2 separate regions of the Homo sapiens genome follow, and region 1 is linked to region 2. The links come from fine-mapping of genetic effects on gene expression. Tissue or cell type: whole blood. Region 2 holds a variant in brackets; the other region holds the start of a gene. All regions are shown on one strand. Distances are from middle to middle.

The links. PIP is the estimated chance that this variant, and not a neighbour inherited with it, causes the effect.
Region 1: it holds the start of PCBP1, and the variant in region 2 is fine-mapped to the expression of PCBP1 in whole blood (TOPMed, PIP above 0.99).

The regions. Positions count from the first base shown.
Region 1 is chr2:70,083,182-70,091,286 of GRCh38, forward strand. PCBP1 (poly(rC) binding protein 1) reads left to right here and starts at 4,296. Exons shown (of 1, transcript NM_006196.4): 1 at 4,296-6,022. The coding sequence starts at 4,563. The coding sequence ends at 5,633. PCBP1-AS1 (PCBP1 antisense RNA 1) reads right to left here and starts at 3,834. Exons shown (of 11, transcript NR_033872.1): 1 at 3,797-3,834; 2 at 2,366-2,443; 3 at 357-506. It also overlaps a transcript of ASPRV1 not described here. RefSeq lists enhancers at 2,893-3,032, 3,173-3,262, 3,303-3,512, 4,718-5,362, 5,434-5,600 and silencers at 3,723-3,872, 4,323-4,382, 6,409-6,458, 6,549-6,638.
Region 2 is chr2:69,987,865-69,995,969 of GRCh38, forward strand. It overlaps PCBP1-AS1 (PCBP1 antisense RNA 1), which reads right to left. Exons shown (of 11, transcript NR_033872.1): 9 at 878-974. It also overlaps a transcript of ASPRV1 not described here. Among named protein-coding and RNA genes, the nearest start is that of ASPRV1, 30 kb to the left of the region's middle. RefSeq lists an enhancer at 5,303-5,802. The variant T/C (reference allele first, on the strand shown) is at 3,540.

The DNA of each region.
Region 1 (8,105 bases), 95 kb after region 2:
ACACATCAAAGTCCATATCAAAAGCATCAGAAGCCATGGAAAGGTGTAATCCATAACTAAGAGTCAAGAGGTTCAGCTCAAATTCTAACAGGCTGTGTAACGTTGGGCAAGTCACTTCACTCCTCTAATCCAAAAATGGCTCTTCTGTAAAATGGGCATAAGACCCTACTGGCAAAGTTGTCTGTGATGATTAAACAAGTAACGTGAAAGCACTCTGAAAGGTTTTACGTGACATACCAACTTAACATAAGAGGAAGCAACAATCATTCCTCTGTATGTAGCATAAATCCTGTGGTTCAACTTCCAAAGTCTAAACCTGACTCACCTTCTTAGCCTTGTTAAACCCCTCAACCAACCTGTGGTCACTGAGAGGAGGCGAGTCATGTGTGAGGCTCCAGGCAGGGGTGGGGCAGTGACTACTCAGTCAATTGCTCCATGTCTCAGTGGTTTCATCTATAAAATGGGTGGTGTGGAATTCACTCAGGTATCCACAAGATAATGCAGGTCTGAGGAAGGGAGTGGAGATTTTACCAAAAGTGCAGAAAACATTTACATAAACCTCCCACCCCGCCAAAGAAAAATAACCAAAGTCATCAAATATCATCAGTCCCTGGACATAAGTAGAAGGACCCTTAGAGATCATTTAATCTCTTGCTTTATAAAAGGGAGAACTGAAACCCTGACAGATGAGTTGTAGAAGTCTCAGAGCTAGACAGGGGCAGAGCTAGGACTAGGGCCCAGAGCCTCAGATTCCAAGGTCCAATGACCTCTTTGCCAGACCACAGCATCACCCAAGGTGTCTGTATGACATGTTACCAACCCCAAGACACATTACAATTTAACCAACGTCCAAACGTGGGCTACCGAAGGGAGAAACTGTTAAGACTCTCGGGGAAGGAGGGAGGCTAAGAGCTGGGGAAGCTGGGAAAGGGAAGGCTTCACTGAGGAGGTGCACTAAGTCCCAGGAGTACATAACAGGAAATTATGGAAATATTTCAGTAGGTAGTCTTGGAAAGAAAGACCTGACAGATAAAATTTTCTCTAGAGAAAAGAAATAAGTTAGATTTAAAAGACCAGAAGAAGGCTTTGTTTGAACATTCCTTGATTATATGCAATTTAGTCCTTTTGTTGTCACCTGAGTTTCTAACACTTGGTAATATTTTTAATTCCCTCATCTATTCTGTCTCCCTATGAGACAGGACTCTCTGCAGAGACCACATCCAGTTTAGTGGTTAAGAATGGAGTCTCTGGACTCAGATTGCCTAAATTCAAATCCTTGCTTTACCACTTAATAGCTGTGTGACCTTGGATAAATTCCTTCACTAATCTGTACCTCTGTAAAACTGACCTAATATCACCACCCATTTCAGGAGGTTTTGTGAGGATTAAATGTGTATAAGCGGTCACAACTTATTAATGGGTTTTTAATCACTTTATAATGTGTCCTTTTTATATATAAAGAATAGAAATTACCCAAGTACATATACTGCATGTAGTAACAAATATTGTTTTGCAAAAATTTTGTTACATATGTGTGCATAAATGTCTTAAATCATAATGTAAAATTTGTTTCTTAGTGGTTTTTTTAAAAATGTGAGACACTGAATACATAAAATAAGGCTTAGAACAATGCCCAGCACACAGTAAGCACCTAGTGCTGTAACTGTCATCGTTGCTGTTATGTACCTATTAAATGTTCGTAGAGTTATATAAACTAACATGAAACCACTTTGGAAAATATATCTGATAGTAACATAAGTTAAAGGCAAAAAGCCCTTCTCTTTGTCTCTCATATCCACACACAATCAGAGCCCTGCTCAGGCACCAGTTTGTTGCTTGGCCCACTAGCTACGTGTTGCATTGAACTGAAGAGTCCACAGACTGACCTAACACTCTGTCATGCTCTGTCAATCTCTGCAGAGAAATGGAGGCTTGGTGCCAGAGCGAATTTATTTTTACCTGGTTGGGGTGCTGGGGTGGGGGAGGCAAGAGTCAAGCCCATGGGGAGCTGACGGAAGCAAGTCAGTCATACAAAAAACCATTTGCTCCCCCAGAGGCAGGTAGGCTCAAATGTGCCACAGACAGGGCCAGACCGACAGACACCTGAGCCTCTGGGCAGGCTGAATCACTTCCCCCTCCCTATCCTCACCAGACACTGCATAAGACAGCATTTCAGCCCGCCCGCCCGTTACAGGTGTAGCTCTTATCAGGAAAAGCTGGGAGCTGCCTGATACAAAAAGGGGCTGACTGCACAACAAAAGATTACCTGAAGGGCTCATTTAAATGACAAGCTCACCTAAACGTTTTAAATAGTATTTAAATTCCAAAACCCTGATTTACAGAAAAACCTGGAAAATGTGCTCACCAGTAAGGAAATCTGGAGGTCCATCCCCGACATTGTGTGACCTTGAATTAAGCACTTCATCTTTATGTTTGTCTTCCTCTGTTTAAAAGAGAGAGAGAGAGAGAGAGATAAGAACACCTACCTCAGAGGACCATGGTAAAAATTAAAGATAGAATACGGTGAACTGCCTTGCATCGGATGTGCTGGCACTGGCCAATGCACAATAAACGCCTGTCCCTTCTAGACTAAAAATGAACACTTAATTGTGGTAAACTATTAATAAGATTCACCGGCCAACTGTCCTATGAAAAAGTCAGAGGCACTGTAGTCTCTTCGTAGCTCTCGTTCTCTCCAGCACAACAGCCCATGCTAGGAAGTCTAGAAAAGCAGTAACTTATCTCATTCCTTAAATTAAACAGAGGTTTCTAAATGCTTTGGTACTGTGGGGACCCAAATTATCCCTTGATACTGCCCCCCTATTATCCACTATTAAGCTTTAAAAAGGCGAGAGATTAAATATTGTGCCCACATTTTACAGTCATTCGCGTTCCCGTTTCAAATTAAAGGGAGGAAAACGCGTTAAAATTAGGCCTCCGACCTTCAGACCAGCCTGTGGGCTTTTTTAAGTCATAAAACTCGCGGAGGTGGAAGGCCCCGGGGAGGAAGAGGGGTGCATTCTAGAGCTTTCGGGCCGACCCCAATTTCTCGTTGGCGACGAATGCTAACCACGTGTCGCCATTTTGTGTTCAGGAAACATGGCGGCCGCCCCAAGGGTAAGGAACAGGGGAGGCGGAGTAGCGCCACGTTAGCCGCTTTCCCTGAGAGATTGTGAAGCACGTTGCGCACGGGGCCCTTTCTGGTCTGGCTTAGCCCAAGGAGGAAGGGGAAAAGGCAGAAATCACAACTCATAGGCCAGCGTCTTGAGCGACACTTCCTCAGCGGGAAGAACCGGCAAAAAAGGCCTTCCAAGATGGCGGGCCCTGACGGGGCCGCCCCCCTTGAGCCTGGCGCAGTGGCTGCGCCCATGGGCCCGAAAAGCAGCCGCGGGAGCCCAGGCCGCGCGGGGAAAGCCGCAGAAACGTCCTGAAGCCCTGGCCGGCAGCCCCTGAACAAACGAGGCCTCCACAGGCGTACACTATTGTTTCTAATGTCGGAAAAGGGTGCCGCGGTGGAAACGACACAAGGGCAGGAGGTGGGGTTTCTGTGGCTTTAACCGAAAGAAACTTGCGAAACGCAAACAAAGCATTATGTAAATGGACGCCATTCTTTTTAGGACCACGTTTCTAGCACGCCCCACAAACAGCAGAGCCGCGATTCGGCAGGCGGCCGTGAGTGGGTTTCGGTCTTTCTGCCCACCGGCCGCCGCCGGGGAGCAGGAGCTGGGGTGGGGGATCCATGCAGGGCGCCCGGACGCCGGGGACGAAAGGGCCCCACGTGCCCGCCCGCGCGCACCCGCTCCGCAGGCCTCGCCTCGCCGCCCCTCCCCCCCGGAAGAGGGCTGCTGCCCCTCCCATCCCCCCACACCCTCGCGCACGCGCTCTGGTCACCTCACGCGCATGTTTTAAACCCGCGGCGTCCCGGCTTGTGCCTGCAGTTTCCGCCGGGGCTGCCCATGTCGTTCCGCGCACGAGCCCCTCATGTAGGGCAGGAAAATAATGTCTATCCCGCATACACAGCACTAGTATTTTCAGTCACCCGCCAGTGCCGTTAGAGTTAATAAAATACGTCATCATTTTAAAACTTTGCCGGACTCACAGCTTCCGCCCATCGTGCGCTTCATTTTCACTACTGCAGTGTCAGAAGGTTTTTTTTTTAAGGACCATGTAAGGGTTGGCGCAATCTTGTGACCTAAAAAAGACGGGTCCTCATTTTTTTTCAAGGGGTCCTGCGCAGCAAGCACTTCCGGGGTCAGAGGGTACGCGGGGTTGAAAGCGGGCTTCCCGCCCCGCCCAGACCGCCGAGGCTGCCGCCGGAGTCGCCACCGCCGCGCCCTCGCCCACCCGCCCGCCCGCCGCTCCCGGCCCCGCTCGCCCCCTCCGCCGCCGCCGCCCGCCCCTGCGACTACGCTGCGGCCTCCCGCCCGCTCCCGCTCGCTCCCGCGGCCCTCGCTCGCCTCGCGCCGGCAGTTTTGGGCCTACACCTCCCCTCCCCCCGCCAGCCGCCAAAGACTTGACCACGTAACGAGCCCAACTCCCCCGAACGCCGCCCGCCGCTCGCCATGGATGCCGGTGTGACTGAAAGTGGACTAAATGTGACTCTCACCATTCGGCTTCTTATGCACGGAAAGGAAGTAGGAAGCATCATTGGGAAGAAAGGGGAGTCGGTTAAGAGGATCCGCGAGGAGAGTGGCGCGCGGATCAACATCTCGGAGGGGAATTGTCCGGAGAGAATCATCACTCTGACCGGCCCCACCAATGCCATCTTTAAGGCTTTCGCTATGATCATCGACAAGCTGGAGGAAGATATCAACAGCTCCATGACCAACAGTACCGCGGCCAGCAGGCCCCCGGTCACCCTGAGGCTGGTGGTGCCGGCCACCCAGTGCGGCTCCCTGATTGGGAAAGGCGGGTGTAAGATCAAAGAGATCCGCGAGAGTACGGGGGCGCAGGTCCAGGTGGCGGGGGATATGCTGCCCAACTCCACCGAGCGGGCCATCACCATCGCTGGCGTGCCGCAGTCTGTCACCGAGTGTGTCAAGCAGATTTGCCTGGTCATGCTGGAGACGCTCTCCCAGTCTCCGCAAGGGAGAGTCATGACCATTCCGTACCAGCCCATGCCGGCCAGCTCCCCAGTCATCTGCGCGGGCGGCCAAGATCGGTGCAGCGACGCTGCGGGCTACCCCCATGCCACCCATGACCTGGAGGGACCACCTCTAGATGCCTACTCGATTCAAGGACAACACACCATTTCTCCGCTCGATCTGGCCAAGCTGAACCAGGTGGCAAGACAACAGTCTCACTTTGCCATGATGCACGGCGGGACCGGATTCGCCGGAATTGACTCCAGCTCTCCAGAGGTGAAAGGCTATTGGGCAAGTTTGGATGCATCTACTCAAACCACCCATGAACTCACCATTCCAAATAACTTAATTGGCTGCATAATCGGGCGCCAAGGCGCCAACATTAATGAGATCCGCCAGATGTCCGGGGCCCAGATCAAAATTGCCAACCCAGTGGAAGGCTCCTCTGGTAGGCAGGTTACTATCACTGGCTCTGCTGCCAGTATTAGTCTGGCCCAGTATCTAATCAATGCCAGGCTTTCCTCTGAGAAGGGCATGGGGTGCAGCTAGAACAGTGTAGGTTCCCTCAATAACCCCTTTCTGCTGTTCTCCCATGATCCAACTGTGTAATTTCTGGTCAGTGATTCCAGGTTTTAAATAATTTGTAAGTGTTCAGTTTCTACACAACTTTATCATCCGCTAAGAATTTAAAAATCACATTCTCTGTTCAGCTGTTAATGCTGGGATCCATATTTAGTTTTATAAGCTTTTCCCTGTTTTTAGTTTTGTTTTGGGTTTTTTGGCTCATGAATTTTATTTCTGTTTGTCGATAAGAAATGTAAGAGTGGAATGTTAATAAATTTCAGTTTAGTTCTGTAATGTCAAGAATTTAAGAATTAAAAAACGGATTGGTTAAAAAATGCTTCATATTTGAAAAAGCTGGGAATTGCTGTCTTAAACTCTTTGTTGGTGCCTTTTTTTTCCCTCCCCTTTTAGCCTGAGGTGTTTGGAGGGAGGAGGGAGAAGGGTGGGCCCGTCCTTGGTATTCTCTCAAGCTCTTCTCACCTTATCGGTAAGATTCCATTCCCTCTGTGCCCCAACAAAGGAACATGGCAGGCTGGGCCTGCTTTGGGATGTTTCCAGGGACAGAGAGGTTCAAGTTCCAGAGAGAGGCCTCTGCCCATTTCTCTGGTAGAAACAAGGTTTTCTCGAGGGGAAAAGGTGTGCCCACTCAGTAGGACCTCTAAATGGCAGAGCGTCCTCTCCATCTAACCAGTTCCCCCACCCCCACCTCACAGGATAAACTTAGGAACAAAAAAATATTCTGGGGTGGGAGGAGCCTGGGGAAGGGGTGTGGGGGCAGGGAAAGGAAAGGAAGGGAGGGCAGTGGGCCGGGGAGGATTGGGGGCTTGGAGGAGGGCAACAGCTGCCGGGTGGTGGTGGGACTAGAGGGGTCTTGGTTGGGCAGCAGGGGTGGGAAGGGGGGAGGGGACGGTACCAACGAGACGCACGTGTCAAGCATGCACCTGTGGCAAGCAGCCTGTCAGAGGATGTTATTACACCTGCCAAGTGGTGTATCCAGAAACAAAAGAGGCCCAGTTTCCAATTCTTCAGCTGTGTGCAATGTTTAGAGAATCCCTATACCAGGAAATAATCCTGCCTAAATGGGTCAGTCTTCACAAGGCGGGAATGTAGACTGATGCACTGACTATAACCTAAGAATGATCTGAGTGTTAAAGATGCAGATTCCTCTGTCCCACCCCAAAACTAATCAGCTGTATTTTTAACAAACACCCCAAAGGAGTCTTAGATTTGAATGCCACTGATTGTCTTCAGTGGAGGAGGAAGATCCCGCTGTGAAGGCCGTAGCACCCTCACGCCCACGTCAGCCAATAGGACTATCCCTGACCTGATGAGAGAAGGAAAACTGCTAGGCAAAGGCAACATTAGAAACAATAGTATGAGAAAATAGAGCCTGAGATGAGGGAAAGAAGAAACAATAGTATCAGACAATAGACCAGTAGGTGCCAAAGTGGGTAGTTCAAACCCCAGGCACTATGGGAGATCACTCATGGCAAAGAGAAGTTCCTGTGGGAGGGGAGTATTATCCACAGTAAATATTCGTTGAGGCTTATTATGTGGTCACGCAGGGTTAGGCAAGCAGTCACTGAAAGGAGCCCAAATTCTGGAGTTAGACTTGCTTTCAAATTTGAGTTCTGCCTCCTATTCATGGCTTTGGACAAATTAATCTCTATAAATGAAGATGTTAAAATTAACACCTTCTGGGCTTGTGAAAATAAAATGAAAGCATGTATATAAAACAGAACAGTGCTTAGAACACAGTAAATTTCAGTGTACTCGATTATAAAAAGCCAAAAGGCCCATTTCTGGGGGCTGAGGGTTGGCCACAAAATCTGGGCAGAGAAGACAGATGATTAAAAGGTAGGAAACAAAGCAATGTGTATTAAATGAGTTGGACTGAGAGGCCAAGACAGGTGGGGAGGGAGGGGGACCTAGTGAAGACCCAGAAGTGGGTACCATGCCTTCTGGGAACAATAAGCACAAATCCAAATCAAGGCAAGAGGGGATATAAGCTTGAACCCTCAAACACCAAGCCAAATAGTCTTTGAAGAATCCCTGAAATGCTGGGTGAAGCAGTTTGAATGCCCTATGAAAAGCAGGTCTTAATACCAAAAATTAGGCCAGGTGCAGTGGCTCATGCCTGTAATACCAACACTGGGAGGCCGAGGTGGGCAGATCACTTGAGCTCAGGAGTTTGAGACCAACCTGGGCAACATGGTGAAACCTCGTCTCTACAAAAAAAAAAAAAAAAGAAAAAAAAATTAGACAAGTGTGGTGGTGTGCACCTGTAGTTCCAGCTACTTGGGAGGCTAAAGTGGGAGGATTGCCCTGCACCTGGGAGGTCGAGGCTGCAGTGGCCTGTGATCATACCAATGCACTCAGCCTGAGCGACAGAGCAAGACCCTGTCTCAAAAAAGAAAAAAGAAAGAAAAGTAGGCCTCAGACTTTCCTGAACCTCCT
Region 2 (8,105 bases):
GGTAGGAGAGTGCCCAGGTACAGCTGCTCTGAGGCCAAGGCCTCCCATTCATTCATCCAACAAATACTTATCAAGCACCTACAATGTGCCAGGCACTGCCCTAGTCTCCGGGGGTGCACCCGTGATGAAGAGGTTTAAAACCCCTGCCACAATGGGGAGAATGTGGAGAAACTGGAATCTGTGTGCATTGCCAGTGGGTATGTAAAGTAGTATACAGCCACTGTGGAAAATGATATGGTGGTTCCCCAAGAAGTTAAACATAGAATTACCATATGATGCAGCAATTCCACTTCTTTAGGTATAGACCCAAAAGAACTGAAAGCAGGGATTCAAACAGATATTTGCGCACCCATGTTCACAGCAGCATTATTGGTTTGCAATAGCTGAAAGGAAGAAACAACCCAAGCGCCCACGCATGGCTGAACAGATGAACATGTGGTACAGTTACACAATGGAATATTATTCAGCCGTAAAAAGCAATGAAGTTCTGACACATGCTACAACATGGATGAATCTTGAAAACATTATGCTAAGTGAAAGAACCAGACATAAAAGGACAAATACTCTATGATTCTACTTACATGAGGTGTCTAGAGTAGTCAAGTTCATAGAGACAGAAAGTACAGCGGTGGTTGCAGGAGCTGCAGGGAGGGAAATGTTTGGTGGGTAGTGGGAGTTAGTGTTTAGTGGGTAGAGAGTTTCAGTGTGGGAAGATGAAGAAGTTCTGAAGATGAATGGTGTTGATGGTTACATGATATTGTAAATATACTTAATGTCACTGAATTGTACACTCAAAAATCATTAAAATGGTCGATTTTATGTTATATATATTTTACCACAATTAGAAACAAACAAAAACCTTCCCCATGGAACTTACGTTCTTCTGAGTTGCCCCAGACGAGAGCTTATAACGAAGAGTAGTGTTAACTCTGCCACCTCAAAGCAGGGGTCAACATGGGGTTCTGCAGAAGAGTCTGGAGTAGGATGGGAGGGGTCAGGAAGCAAGAGGTCACACACAGGTTCCCCTCAATCTCTGTACCCAGAACGGCTCTCCTGTTACCAATTTTGAGTGTATTCTGATAAAATTTTATTTGACAAAAAGGCTGCCACCACTAAAGAACACTTTTTTTTTCCTAAACCACTGCCTTCCTTCTCTAAAACAACCACTGACCAGGAGATGCTTCCATGAAGAGTGAGCAGGCAGGGGCCACTTTGCAAGAATCTGCATGGGCAGGGGATAGGGCCCAGAGGGCAGGGCTCTCACAGCCCCGCCACACTTCTCCCGGGCTGGAGGGTCAGTTTTCAGATTTCTGGCTCCATCTCCTCCTGGAGGGCAGGGTTCTTGGCTGAGTCACCTCTGGTCTTGCCCAGGGTGGGGTATGGAAACGGCACCTGATTTTGGCATTGGAAACCTTGGCTCCAAGTCCTGGCTGGGCCTTTTATAAGACATTTAATGTCCCAGCCTATTTTCTTAGCTGTAAAATGAGAATGACCCTGACACCACCCATCTCCCAGGATCAGACACAACACCACAGCACAGCACAGGACAGTGCTTGGCACAGAGGGGTGCACGTACATGGGGGGCCTCAGAGTTCAGGCCTTAAGGCCCAGGAATGGGGGGCTGTGGGCCCCAGGTGTGCCCAGGAGGCCCTGGGGCGGGTCCCTGAGCCCTTGGACCTGCCCAGCCAGCCCTGCCAGTCCTGGCCAGTCCCGGCGCTCATTTGGGGCGTGGAGGGGGCACTAAGTGCACAGCCGCCCCCAGAGTAAACAGCCTGATGAGCACGGGAAAACAAGATGCTGAAATGCTTCTGAGCCACGTCATGGTTTCAGAGGCACTGGCCCGCCAACCCCAGGAGCCTTCCTGGGCCCCACCCAGGTGATGTGACCACACCCTGTGCTGCCCCTAACCCATCTCTGCATGTGACAATTCTGTGCTTTCTATGCTGGGCTGTGACTTCTTGAAGGCGGGGACCCACCCTACTGGTCTCTACTCCCCTGGCACATAGACAGGGTTCAGTAACTGCATGTTAAATCAGCGGTGATGATGATGATGGTGACAATGACAGTTGCAGCAGCTATCCAGCACATGGCCCTTGCCATGGGTGTGGCCACAGTGCTAAGAATCTTCATTTAACTCTTTTAACCCTCACGGAAATCCTCGCAGGTGTGTCCTGTTGCCATGATCCTCATTTTTAATGAAGGCACTGAGGCACAGAGAGCTTAAGTACCTTGCCAAAGGTCATACAAAGTGACAGAGGCAGGGCTTGAACCCCGGTGCCTTGGTTTGCCCTTTTTATTTTTGTTTGTTTATGTATTTTTATTTTATTTTATTTTTTTGAAACAGAGTCTCACTCTATTGTCCAGGTTGGAGTACAATGGCGAGATCTTGGCTCACTGCAACCTCCACCTCCTGGGTTCATGCGATTCTCATTCCTCAGCCTCCCGAGTAGCTGGGATTACAGGCCCCCGCCACCATGTCCGGCTAATATTTGTATTTATATTAGAGATAGGGTTTCAGCATGTTGGCCAGGCTGGTCTCGAACTCCTGACCTCAAATGATCCTCCCACCTCAGCCTCCCAAAGTGCTTGGATTACAGGCATGAGCCACTGTGCCCAGCCTGTTCATTTATGTAGACAGGGTCTCACTCTGCGGCCCAGGCTGGAGTGCAGTTGTGTGATCAGGGCTTACTGTAGCCTCGACATCTAGGGCTCATGTGATCCTCCCACCTGAGCCTCCTGCCACACTTCGCTAATTTTTTAAAAAATGTTTTGTGGAGATGAGGTCTTACTATGTTGCCCAGGCTGGTCTCTAAGTCCTGGACTCAAGCCATCTCCCTGCCTTGGCCTCCCAAAGTGCAGGGATTACAGGTGTGAGCCACCACACCTGGCCTCCCTTTTAACCACTCCTCCCAGCTGCCTGGACAAGGACACTTTCTCTCCTACTGACTCCTCATCCATGGTAATCATCAACTTCTTGGGAAGGGACATTAGGCGCCCTCGGGCCACCTTCATACGCAGCCTCTAAGATCCCTTCTGAGGTGTACCCTGGCAGAGAGGCCATCTTGAGACTGTGTAGACCCTCCTTTGGCAGGGAACTCCGCACCACACCGGCACTCATCTCAGATGGGACCCCAGCCAGCCTCCTCAAACGTGGCCTGCTGGACATAAAGAACGGTCCCTCTCTCATCTTTGGTGGCTTTTCAGCTATATAAATTCACCTCTCCTCTGGCTAACAGCCCCTGCATCGTCACCACTGCTCTGCCCCCACACCCCCTTCCTCTTGGTGACCTGCCTGGGGAATTCCTACTTGGCTGGGATCTGAGAGCTGCACCCCACACACGGGCAGTTGGCCCAAGAAGCGGGGATGGAGAAAGGCTGCGGCCCTCCCTGTGCTAGGTCCTTGCCTCCCATGTGTGGGGGCTCTCCTGATCTTCACACTCTTGGTCCATAAGGAACCCATGGAAAACCAGTCCCCTTGGGCCCCCACGCTCCTCCACTATGTATTTGAACGAATCATTTTAGTGAACCCAAATATAAAA[T/C]GTTACATTTTCCCTTGTAAAATGTCTTCTTTTTTCCACCCTGACAAGACTACTTTGAGTCATGACTTTGTTACCCCAAAGTCATTTATTGTTCCTCTGGGGGCTGGGTCACCTGCAGCCCAGAGAAGCCTCCCTTCAGGGGCTTTATTTGTTATTTTTTTGAGATGGAGTCTCACTCTCGTTGCCCAGGCTGGAGTGCAATGGCCCAATCTCGGCTCACCACAATCTTCGCCTCCCGGGTTCAAGCGATTCTCCTGCCTCAGTCTCCCGAGTAGCTGGGATTACAGGTATGCACCACCAGACCTGGCTAATTTTGTATTTTTAGTAGAGAGGGGTTTCACCATGTTGGCCAGGCTGGTCTTGAACTCCCGACCTCAGGCAATCCGCCCACCTCGGCCTCCCAAAGTGCTGGGATTACAGGCGTGAGCCACTGCGGGGCTTTATTTAAAAAAAGGAAAAGAGAAAAAACACATTGCTCAGCAAGTTTCTCTTCTCTGTCTTGAAATTTAGGACTAATAAATGGATTTGTCTCTGGTCATGCCACCTCTCTCCAGAAGTGCTGCTTTGGGGGCTCTGGCCAACCTGGATGACCACCCGTGGGGAACGTGACCACCTGTGGGGAATGTGACCACCTATGGGGAATGTGACAAGTGGGTCGTTTTCTAGGACAGAGTTGAGAGAGCTCTATTTTACATTTTCTCTTCTGTTAGGGGCTTCATTTCACTCTTAATGATCTTTGTTCCACTTTTTTTTTTTCTGCCAGTGTGAGGACTATTCTCAAGGGAAGTAGAATTGGAAACAAAATGGGAATTGTGCACTTTTTTGTTCTCTCTACTCGGCGTCTTCGCCTAGCCGAGGGGAGTCGCTGCCTTGTCCATCCTCTTGCTCCAAACAGACCAATAAGGAAGCAAACAAACAACTTTGGTGCTGACCAGGATTCCTTTACAATCGTTGCTAATTCTAGACTTCGGTCCTTCTGGACATTCTGACATACCCATGGTATATCACAGCCAAGGCATCAGGCAGTGTGAAAACCCAGCAGGTTCATTGAAAACCTACACTCATCTGTTCTCCTTGGCTGCTGCCCGCCCCCTTCCTCCCTGTTAAAATCATTTGCGATTTCATCATCAAAATCTAATTTCCACTAGGTGGAATGCTTATGCCTGGCAGGTTTTCCTCTACCCCTCACATTATTCTAATCCCACTGAAATAATAATTCCTTTAGGCAGCTTGTTTGAGACCACCATTTTGATCAAGCCCTACTCCATTCTCGCCTTGGGGACATGTCACAGAGTGGTTTGTCTAAAATCTTTTCCTAGAACTTTGATATTGTTATTTTAGGTTATTATTGTGATTTCATGTTATCCTCCCCCTTTGGGAGAAATGGTTTCATCATTTTGTAATTAAATTAGATTTGCAAAATGTCAACAATAGGATGTGCAATGCATTACACGTGCATTACGTAGTAATCTATTGTCAAGACAGAGACCTCCTGGTGAGGTGACAGAGCCCTGGGCCCCACTGCCTTCTACTAGACTGTTGCTTTCTCAGACGGTGAGGAATAAATCAACCTTATCTAAGAATCCTTGTCTAAGAAATACCTGGCTTTTCTTTGAGATCCCCTCACTGATTGAAGCACCCCTGCAGTCACTCAGGGTGATTCACAGAAGCAGATCTGGGGACCACGTGGCCAGGGAGTGGGGAGGAATCAGGCTACCAAAGAAACAGAGACCCGGCCCTGCCTCGGCAAGTGGGCTGCCCTGGCTCAGGCCACGTAGCGAAGAGGGCAGAATTTGTCCTCAAGCCCACACCTGCCTACCCCTCCGCCACTGCTCCACAAACTGCACCCCTAGCCCACATCTGAGTTGCTGTGTCCTGTCCCATGGCTACTTAGGCCATCCCACCAGGCCTGCCATCCCCAGGAAGTGTCCAGCTCAGAGTCCTCTCTCCACACCTGTCTCCAAGTGTCAGCAAGCTTTCAGACTGGAAAGGATTTATTCACAAACTCATGTGGGTGAACAAAGGAGTCCAACAGTAAGGGAGACATTTTCAGCTGTGAGGCCAACTAGGGCTGTGTGGAGAGGACTTGCCCCCTGAACCTGAGATCACAGTGACCTTGGTCTCCAAGGTCCTGTGAGAAGCACGGCTGGCCCAAGTCAGAGCCACTCAACAGCATCTTATTCATCCAGAGTCACTGAGGTTCCCATCAATTACATTTTCTGAAAATGAAACTTGAATTGCCAAAACACTATTTTAACCTTTGAAAATAAATCTTCCTAAAAGGTGGCCCATAGTCCCTAATGACTTAAAACCTCTCCTTTTCCCACTGAAGTGGTCATCATTATCCCTATGGAATGGGACAATAATGTGATTGTGTTTCCATGTGCTGTTTAATTACAACCTTCCTTACAGCCTTCACTTTCCTGTTATCTACAAGTCTCTCTCTAAAAACCACCTTCCACCAGCCACCCTTCCAGGCTGTTTGTTTTGCAGAGCGTTGGGAAATCAGACAGCACTCCTGTTAGGACAGTGTGCTCCACAGATGTCAGCGAAGCTTGAGGCCCACAGAGAAATAAGGCACTTGGTTCAGACGCAGGGATTTTGATTAAGCTATTTCTGAGGGTCTTCTTTCCAATACCTTCCAGTTCACGGCTAAAATCCAAAGGCAGATGGGGCCAAGACTCACTTGCACGTGGAATGCTCCTTGAATCTATTTCTCATGGTCCTCTGACTGGTAAGATGTTTCTGTCGTCGTGTCACTGTCAGGCAGGAGTTCCAGGGCTTGCTCTGCTTCTATTTGTTATGTGTGGCCCTGCTAGATGAGCAGCGTTGGTGAGACCCCTAGACCTGAGAGGTCCCATTAAGAGGGATGAGATCAAGAGAGGTGAGATGTGCAGCCTGTGTCCCTGGCCCTGACCTGGCATCCTTCTCTTACGTGTCTAGTGTGTTCTATAGACTTCAACCTCCTGACACAGCATCTGTGGCCATGGCCATTTTACAGCATGACCAACGGAGCAGTGAGAGTCTGGGAAAGAGCAGAGCCCCTCAGGGAGACCACTTGGATGAGCTCATCATGTGCTAGCTCTTCAAGGAACCCGGGGTGCAGCATGTGGGCGGTACAGTAACGGGCAGCCTGGGCTGTGTTTGGAGCTGCTCTGAGTTGGGAAGGGCTGGCTGTCACAGCTGGGGCAAAGATGCAGCCAGGATCTCACTCTATGTTGCTCACCTGGTGGGTTGTGACTTGCTACTGGGTCATGAAATCAATTTAGTGGGTCACAACCAGCCTTTCTCTTTAAAAAAATAAACAGAATAGGACAGGTGCAGTGGCTTATGCCTGTAATCCCAGCACTTTGGGAGGCCGAGGAGGGCGGATCATGAGGTCAGGAGATCAAGACCATCCTGGCTAACACGGTGAAACCCTGTCTCTATTAAAAATACAAAAAAAAAAATTAGCTGGGCGTGGTGGCAGGCACCTGTAGTCCCAGCTACTCAGGAGGCTGAGGCAGGAAAATGGCGTGAACCTGGAAGGCGGAGCTTGCAGTGAGCCGAGATCGCGCCGCTGCACTCCGGCCTGGGTGACAGAGCGAGACTCCGTCTCAAAAAATAAATAAATAAATTAATTAATTAATTAATTAAACAGAATAATATCCAAGCACATCACATGTAGTCAGGGTGAATATTGTTTTGACAAAACTTTTGCGGCCGGGTGCAGTGGCTCACACCTGTAATCCCAGCACTTTGGGAGGCCGAGGCAGGCAGATCACGAGGTCAGGAGATCGAGACCATCCTGGCTAACACAGTGAAACCCCGTCTGTACTAAAAATACAAAAAAAAAATTAGCCAGGCGTGGTGACGGGCACCTGTAGTCCCAGCTACTCGGGAGGCTGAGGCAGAAGAATGGTGCGAACCCGGGAGGCGGAGCTTGCAGTGAGCCAAGATCACGCCACTGCACTCCAGCCTGGGTGACAGAGCAAGACTCTGCCTCAAAAAAAAAAAAAAAAAACTTTTGCTTCAGTGCTATGTATCCATACATTGAGGTGTGTCCTGCTTGGGACAGGAGATATCTTTCTCACCATAAGCAGTGGTCGAAGAAGTCAGAAATACAGTGGTTACACTCACATCCATCCTGCAGTTGATCTTCCTAAGACCCATCCCTGCCACCTTACCCTCAGTTGGGAAGCCAAATGGAATTTGTTCAGGGCCCTAGAACTAGCCTCACCTGGAAGGGACAGAGGAGTCTGGGAAGCCTTCTTGGAGGAGGTGGGGCTTGCTGTGGTGGGAGCAGGAAGAGGGACACAGGGCAGAAGGGAGGGCAGGGGCAATTGTCCCAAGGTGGGAAGAGCAGGAAGAAGGAAGCCTGGAGAGGCCTGGGAGGGGCAGTACTAGACACCGCCTTCTCATGCAGGCAGAATGAGGGCTGAGGCCAGCGTTAGGGGGAGAAAGAAAGCCCATTTGGTTTCGATGTGGAAACAGCCAAGTAATCTTCTACTTGATGCCTGCTTTTGCAGATGGTTGGAATCATCCTTAGTTAAGAACCAAGGCCTCCTCCTCCTTTATTCCAAATCT